2 linked regions of the Homo sapiens genome follow. The protein of the gene in region 1 binds, or shares a complex with, the protein of each later gene. Each region holds a gene or a part of one and is shown in the gene's direction. Other genes may lie near its edges. The genes, in order: VAMP7 and BNIP1.

Region 1 (3,825 bases):
TTAGGGTGGGAGTGATCCGATTTTCCAGGTGCCATCTGTCACAGCTTCCCTTGGCTAGGAAAGGGAATTCCCTGACCCCTTGTGCTTCCCGGGTGAGGCGATGTCTCGCCCTGCTTCGGCTCACGCTCGGTGGGCTGCACCCACTGTCCAACAAGCCCCAGTGAGATGAAGCCGGTATCTCAGTTGGAAATGCAGAAATCATCCGTCTTGTGCGTTGCTCACGCTGGGGGCTGTAGACTGGAGCTGTTCCTATTTGGCCATCTTGGAACAGGAATCAAAGGAAATTTTTTAAAAATCCCATTTATGATAGCATCAAAAAGAGTACAATAGTTAGGAATAAATTTAACCAAGGATGTAATAATGTGCACACTGAAAATTATAAAACATTGATGAAAGAAATTCAAGAAGACACAAATCAATGGAAAGATACCTTATGTTTATGGATTGGAAGAATCAATATTATTAAAATGTTCATACTGCCTGAAGCAATACACAGATTCAACACAATCCCTATTGAAATTCCAATGGCATTTTTCACAGAATAGAAAAAAAAATTCTAAAATGTGGATGAAACTAGAAGACATTATATTAAGTGAAATATACTAGACACAGATAGATAAATACTGTATGATTTCACTTATATATGGAATCTAAAAAAAATGTTCAGTTCATAAAAGCAGAGAGTAAAACAGTGGTTGACAGTGGGTGGGAGACCTGGAGAGATGTTGGTCAAAGTGTATGAACTTACAGTTGTAAGATGAATAAGTTCTGGATACCGGACATACAGCATGGCAACTATAGTTAATAATAATGTATTGAATATTTGAAATATGCTATAAGAATAGATCTTAAGCATTCTCACCACATACCCAAAAAAGTAACTATGTGAGGTGATGGATATTTTACTTAGCTTGATTGTGGTAATAATTTCACAATGTGTACATTTATCAGAATATCACATTGTATACCTTGAATATATACCATTTTTATTTGCCAATTATACTTCAAGGCAGAAAAAAATAAAATTAGAGTAGAAACAAAAGCTTGGAGGTCTGAAATGTTACTAAAAGTGTAACATTTTCCTTTTTTCAATATTCTTGCCACATGGTGGGTAGGTCCTTTTAGTCTGAAGATTCAAGTCTGTCTTATTTGGGGGATATTTTCTTCAATTAGTCCCTTGATTATTGATCCTTCTCTTTTGGCTGTATTCTCTCCTGTGACTGCTAATAGGTGTGTAAATCAGTACCAGGCACATAATAAGCACATGTTAAATATCTGTTGATCGTATAAATTGATCCTGGATTTGCTTGATCAGTTTTCCGTGTATCTTACATCTTCTTTCATGATTTACAACCTAGACATTTTGCTGTTTTCAGAACAAATTTTTTGAATTGTTACTGCAGAAGCTGCTTTTGCTCATTTATGTTCTGCTTTTAAAAAATTATGCCATTTTATTAAAATATAGTTTTTGGAATGTTGTCATGTTATCTAATTTTTTATGTCCTCTGATGACTTTGTTTAAAATTAGTTCAATTATGTCTTGTATCTGAGGATACTTATTAGAAATTTTTTTATTACTGTTATTCTATCTTGTTTCCCATATTAACTTTGTTCCATTAAGGACTGTTTGTCCCCATTGCTTTTTTTGTCTCCTCACTTTAACTGCTGTTTCTTCTCAAAAGTTCTAGTCAATGCATATATTCTATTCAACATATATATTTAGCTCTAGATGTAATCAGTTTTGGTATGTGCCTCCAGGTGGCATCCTGTGCAGTCTTCATGAAGTGAAACCCAAAGACTGGTGCCCCTGTCAGTTGTTCTACTGCAGAGACTTTGTGGAGTATGTGGTTGGAGATGAATCTATGGTTAAGGGAGTGGATTTTTTAAAACCAATATGTGAAGTATAATATACATAAAGTGCATCAACTGTAAGCATACAACTTGTTGTGTTTTCACAAAGTAAACATACCATGTAGAACCAACACCCAGATTAAGAACTAGAGCACGAACAGTACCCCAGAAGCTCCCTTCTCCCTTCTTTTAGTCACTACTCTTCTCCAAAGGTGGCCACTGTCCTGATTTCTCCACATAGATTAATAAAACATAGCAGGGGCCGAGAGTGGTGGCACACACCTATAGTCCCAGCTACTCAGGAGGCTGAGGTGGGAGGATCGTTTGAGCCCAGGAGGTCAAAGCTGCAGTGAGTCGTAATTGTGCCACTGCACTCCAGCTTGGGCGACAGAGCAAGACCCTGTCTCAAGATAAATAATAAAATATAGCAGGTATTCTGTTTATGTCAAGTTTCTATTGCTCAAAATGATGTTTGTGAGATTCATCTGTGGTAAATTGTATAAATGTAGTAGTAGATTGTGAATTGTCATTACTGTATTGTATTCCATGTTATGACTCTCCTGTAATTTATGCATTGCACAGTTGATGGGCATTTGGGTGGTTTCCAGTTTAAGGTATGAAAAGTAGTGCTGTCCAAAACATTTTTTTATATGTCTTTTGGTGAATTTGCATACATCTGTGGGACCATACCAGAGTGGATTGCTGGATTATTAGGGAGTTTTGTTGGTTGGTTGTTTGCCATTTTGTTTTAAACTCCTTGTGTCCTGGTGGGAATTGTTCAGTAGATACTGAGAAATTGATGATGCAAAAGAAAATGGATAGCAGAAGGAATGAAGTTCTATGGGTTTTGGCCCTCACAAAAGTAAATACATATCTTCCTACAGAAATCAAACAGGTTTTTATGGCTCAAAGCCCCGGAATTATACGGGGCAGAATAGGCGAATGTGCTTGCAGTCAGCTGGCTTTAAAAGAGCCTTTCTTATTGGAAGTATAGAGAGGAAAATTCTTTTCCACTAGCGGGAAGAACCACTTCTGGTGCTCAACATCATGTGCATTGCTGCAGTGGAGAAGAAAAAAGAGGGAAGCGTTTTCATTGGGCTCATACTGCTTATGATAGGCCTGGCAGAGTCTTGCTTTTGGCAACTATTGAGTATGAATGGCCAGTCTCTACTTGTAAAGAGAGGTCATTGGACTTAAATGGAATTAATGGAAGTAAAATGTTCTCAGGTTGTTACTGCAAATCATTCATGTAGTCAGTGCCAGGGGTTAAACAATTCTCGCCTCTTTTCTAGTCTGTCACCTTCAAAACTACCAGCAGAAATCTTGCTCGAGCCATGTGTATGAAGAACCTCAAGCTCACTATTATCATCATCATCGTATCAATTGTAAGTTTTTGTCCTTTTAGTGTATGGCTTTATTTTTCAATCTCTAAGAAATTAGGTACTAGAATTATTTCTCAATGATTAACACTCTGAAATGAGCTACATATGTCTTTTAATAGTGAAACACATGACCAGGCAGTGGCTTTCCTATGAAGTCACTATGAAATATCTCTACTTAAACCCCTCCTTCCTATTGAGAATTATTATATATTCTCAATAGGAAGAGATCTATAAAACTGACCTCACAGAAATGTAGTTATTTTAAATAAAGACATTTCTGGTTTATATGTAATGGGTTTATTGTTTTTATTTTTAAATTAATTATGTATTTTTAAAGTTTTAATTTCTAATATGGCAAATGCTGATAATTATAATCCCCCTTAAACAAGAACTCTTTGGAGTCCTCAGTAATTTTTGAGTGTGTAAAGAGGTCCTAAACCACAACTTTAAAAACTATTGCTAACAGGTGGGGGGTGCTTTACCCTGTTCATGGTCAGATAAAGTTGCCTTTCCTCCCCATCCTCCAGTCATGTCCAGAAGCCCAAAGTTACCTCCAAGCAGATAACTCTGACCCTGCTTCTCCTCTACCACA
Region 2 (3,825 bases), on another chromosome or scaffold:
TTCACCGTGTTAGCCAGGCTGGTCTCGATCTCCTGACTTTGTGATCAGCCTGCCTCAGCCTCCCAAAGTGCTGGGATTACAGGCGTGAGCCACCGCGCCCGGTCAAAACTTATACTGTTAAGTATAATTTTATTATACGTATATTGGAAATTTTTCCATTTCAGTAATCAGAGACTGTCCTCATTTTTCTTTTTTTTTCTTTTTTTGAGACAGGGTCTTGGGCTGTCACCCAGGCCAGAGTGCAGTGGCACAATCTCAGCTCACCACAGCCTTGATTTCCCAGGCTCAAGCGATTTTCCTCCTGCCTCAGTCCCCCAAATAGTTGGGACTACAGGCGTGCGCCACCACACCCAGCAAATTTTTGTAGTTTTTATAGAGACAGGGTTTTGCCATGTTGCTCAGGCTGGACTTGAACTCCTGGACTCAAGTGATTGCCTGCCTCAGCCTTCCAAAGTGTTGGGATTACAGGCAGGAGCCACCACACCTGGTCTCTCATTCTTTTCTAAATAACTGTCATTTTTTTTTTTTTTTTTAGCCAGTTCTCTATCAAAGGGCATTTATTTGGACTGCTTCCACATTTTTTTTTAAGCTAACTTATTCCCTGACAGACTTTTCTTCAACTCAGCATGACTTCAACTCTCCAACTACACCTGTTACCTTCAGTGTGAGTATTTGTATGTTCTTTTTAAACATCTGGGTGCCCACCCAGTGTTTATTTCCTTCACTCATTAAAATGACCTCACCAATACGTGTACATTTACATATTTATTATGGCACCTAGGAAGGACCTAATAAGCACATGGCCAGTAAATGAATAACCCCATCCCAGTTTTAATCTGCGTTTCTTAAGTATTTACATACTCTTTTTGTATCTGGAAATAAATACAAGATTCCTGTTTGTTTGCCATTTTTAGCTTTTATTTGAATGTCTTTTTTGTGTATTTCCAACAAGATCATGTGATACTAGAGAACTGGCCTCATATCCTCAAAACTGGGTGTTCTGCACATGGTGAATCTTGGGCACTGACTGTGTATAAATATCTGTGTGTTTGTCTTTGTACATATAGCTCTCAAACTGGAATTTGAGGACTGCTCTCCCCCGCCATTCCTTTCTCCAGAACTATCACTGGTTCTCTTTGAAAGAACTTCCAGGCAATCTTTCATGAGTAAATTGTACATTTCTCCCCCTTTTTAATCCCTCCGCTTTTCCCATGCGTTCATTCTTCCATTCAGTGACTCAGTGCCCAGTATGTGCCAGGCACAAGGAATATATGTAGTGAATAATGTGAGATACAGCTCTGCTTATTCATAGAATTTACATTCTTTTTTTTTTTTTTGAGACGGAGTCTCACTCTGTTGCCCAGGCTGGAGTGCAGTGGCACGATCTCGGCTCACTGCAATCTCCACTTCCCGGGTTCACGCCATTCTCCTGCCTCAGCCTCCCGAGTACCTGGGATTACAGGCGCCCGCCACCACGCCTGGCTAATTTTTTGTATTTTTAGTGGAGACGGGGTTTCACCGTGTTAGCCAGGATGGTCTTGATCTCCTGACCTCGTAATCTGCCTGCCCTGGCCTCCCAAGGTGCTGGAATTATAGGCGTGAACCACCAGGCCCAGCCCATAGAATTTACATTCTAATAGGGAATACAGATTTTAAACAAATAATTATGAAAATAATTGATGACATTTGCAAAACTTTTCTAATTCACAGTTGATTATTTCTTTTATTCTCTACCTCAGCAATATTTGGAGGCATAAATTGAAAGTCATCTCTGTGCTATTGAAATGGTGGATACACAAACTTGTTCCAAACCAGTATGTGCAAATTGATACGTAAATCAGTAAATTAGTATATAAATGAGCAAATACATTGATGTTTCAGATCAATAGCGTGATTGAAGCTAGAACCTGTTTTAATTTGTAAACCAAAAAATGTGATTGGTATAATGCTATCTTTAATTATAGTCCCTCTTGATGGTTCTTTTATCTGAAGTTCTTGGGGTTTAATACTTCTGGGTATGTCTGCTGACCCTAACTTATAGTGGGTTATTTCCTTGGTGTTAGGTTATTTTGGACTGTGAGCGCTCATCTTAGCAGACCTTATCTGAGGGACTTTGTGCAGCTGGGTCGAGGCCAAGTCTCTACAGAGGTTTTTGCATTAGCTTCCCGCCAGGTCTCCTGAGATGATCACAAGTCTGACAACATTTTTTTTTTTTTTGAGACAGTCTCTCTCTGTCGCCCAGGCTGGAGTGCAGTGGCGCAGTCTTGGCTTGCTGCAAGCTCTGCCTCCCGGGTTCACGCCATTCTCCTGCCTCAGCCTCCTGAGTAGCTGGGACTACAGGTGCCCGCCACCACGCCCGGCTAATTTTTTGTATTTTCAGTTGAGATGGGGTTTCACCATGTTAGCCAGGATGGTCTCGATCTCCTGACCTCGTGATCTCCCCGCCTCGGCCTCCCAAAGTGCTGGGATTACAGGCGTGAGCCACTGCGCCCGGCCGAGAACACTGTTTATGTTCATTTCTCTTCATGGAGTTTCACGAACCACTCAGGGAAGATAAATTGAACCCTAGATCAGTGGAAGGAGCAGCTCCCTGGTTGGTTATAAATTCTCAGGGGAGTTTTTTTTTAACCCCTCTATTTGGAACTCATAGCAAAAAAAGGCAAGCATCTATGTTTTCCCTCTGTGCTGGTAGATGGACATTTTTTTATACCATTTTCCTGTGTCTGTAACCTTTCGTGGGTTTTAGATTTGTGGTGATCTCAGTTCAGCTTCTCAACCTCAGCCTCAGATGGCTCAGGGCTTCATTTTTCTGTCCCTGCACGAGCTCTCAAACCTTCAAGCGCTCAAACTGCCTATTACTCGTCTTTAATTAAATAGGCACAGAAATTGTGAGTATCTGGAAATGAACAGCAGTTTGATATTTTAATGATATCTAAGTGGGGGATCAGTGTGCTTGTATTTCGTCATTGTTTTTCTTTTCCTTTCGGGCCTGCCCTAGGTGACAGGAGCAGCAGCTCTGACGCCAGGACAGCCGTGCATCACTCCCAGGCTGACTATTCCAGCTCTTGTTCCCTTCCCACTTTTGGGCCATAGGGGTTTTCCTTACTTCCTTGTGGACTTAGCTATAGATTTAAAAGGATGTGTGTTATATGTTACCTAGCATTCCTAGGTGTTCTGTTTTAAAAGGGTGCTTCAAGTGCTATTGTATGCCCTTGGCAGAAATAGAAATGCTCTTCTGCTTTCATGTTGACTTTTGAAATCATTTTAACATGGAATTATTTTTCCTCAAAGGACCTGGAGCAGTTGGCTAAAGAGCAAGACAAAGAATCAGAGAAACAACTTCTACTCCAGGAAGTGGAGAATCACAAAAAGCAGATGCTCAGGTAGGCAGGGCCTGCCCCCGCCAGCGGCTTCTGCTGGCTCTTCTTGTTGCCTGTGAGCCTTGCACGTGTGTTTGCCTGATGGATCTGCTTTAATGCTGACTTAATGGTGTCTTTTTTTTTTTTTTGAGAGACGGTGTCTCGCTCTATTGCCCAGGCTGGAGTGCAGTGGCCTGATCTTGGCTCACTGTGACCTCTGCCTCCCGAGTTCAAGCAATTCTTCTGCCTCAGCCTCCTGAGTAGCTGGGATTACAGGCGCCCACCATCACGCCTGGCTAATTTTTGTATTTTTACTAGAGACAGAGTTTCGCTGTGTTGGCCAGGCTGGTCTCTAACACTGGCCTCATGTGATTCACCCACCTTGGCTTCCCAAAGTGCTGGGATTACAGGTGTGAGCAACCACGCCCAGCCAATTGCATCAGTTACACACTGGTGGAATGTTCTC

What was found.
Region 2: VAMP7 (region 1) and BNIP1 share a complex: the UniProt entries of both Homo sapiens proteins name them as parts of the SNARE complex.

The regions. Positions count from the first base shown.
Region 1 is NC_000023.11:155,936,558-155,940,382, forward strand, and holds part of VAMP7 (vesicle-associated membrane protein 7), read left to right. Parts: intron 1-3,143; coding exon 3,144-3,236; intron 3,237-3,825. UniProt on the Homo sapiens protein: Involved in the targeting and/or fusion of transport vesicles to their target membrane during transport of proteins from the early endosome to the lysosome. Required for heterotypic fusion of late endosomes with lysosomes and homotypic lysosomal fusion.
Region 2 is NC_000005.10:173,151,031-173,154,855, forward strand, and holds part of BNIP1 (vesicle transport protein SEC20), read left to right. Parts: intron 1-535; coding exon of another isoform or gene 536-664; intron 665-3,291; coding exon 3,292-3,383; intron 3,384-3,825. UniProt on the Homo sapiens protein: As part of a SNARE complex may be involved in endoplasmic reticulum membranes fusion and be required for the maintenance of endoplasmic reticulum organization. Also plays a role in apoptosis.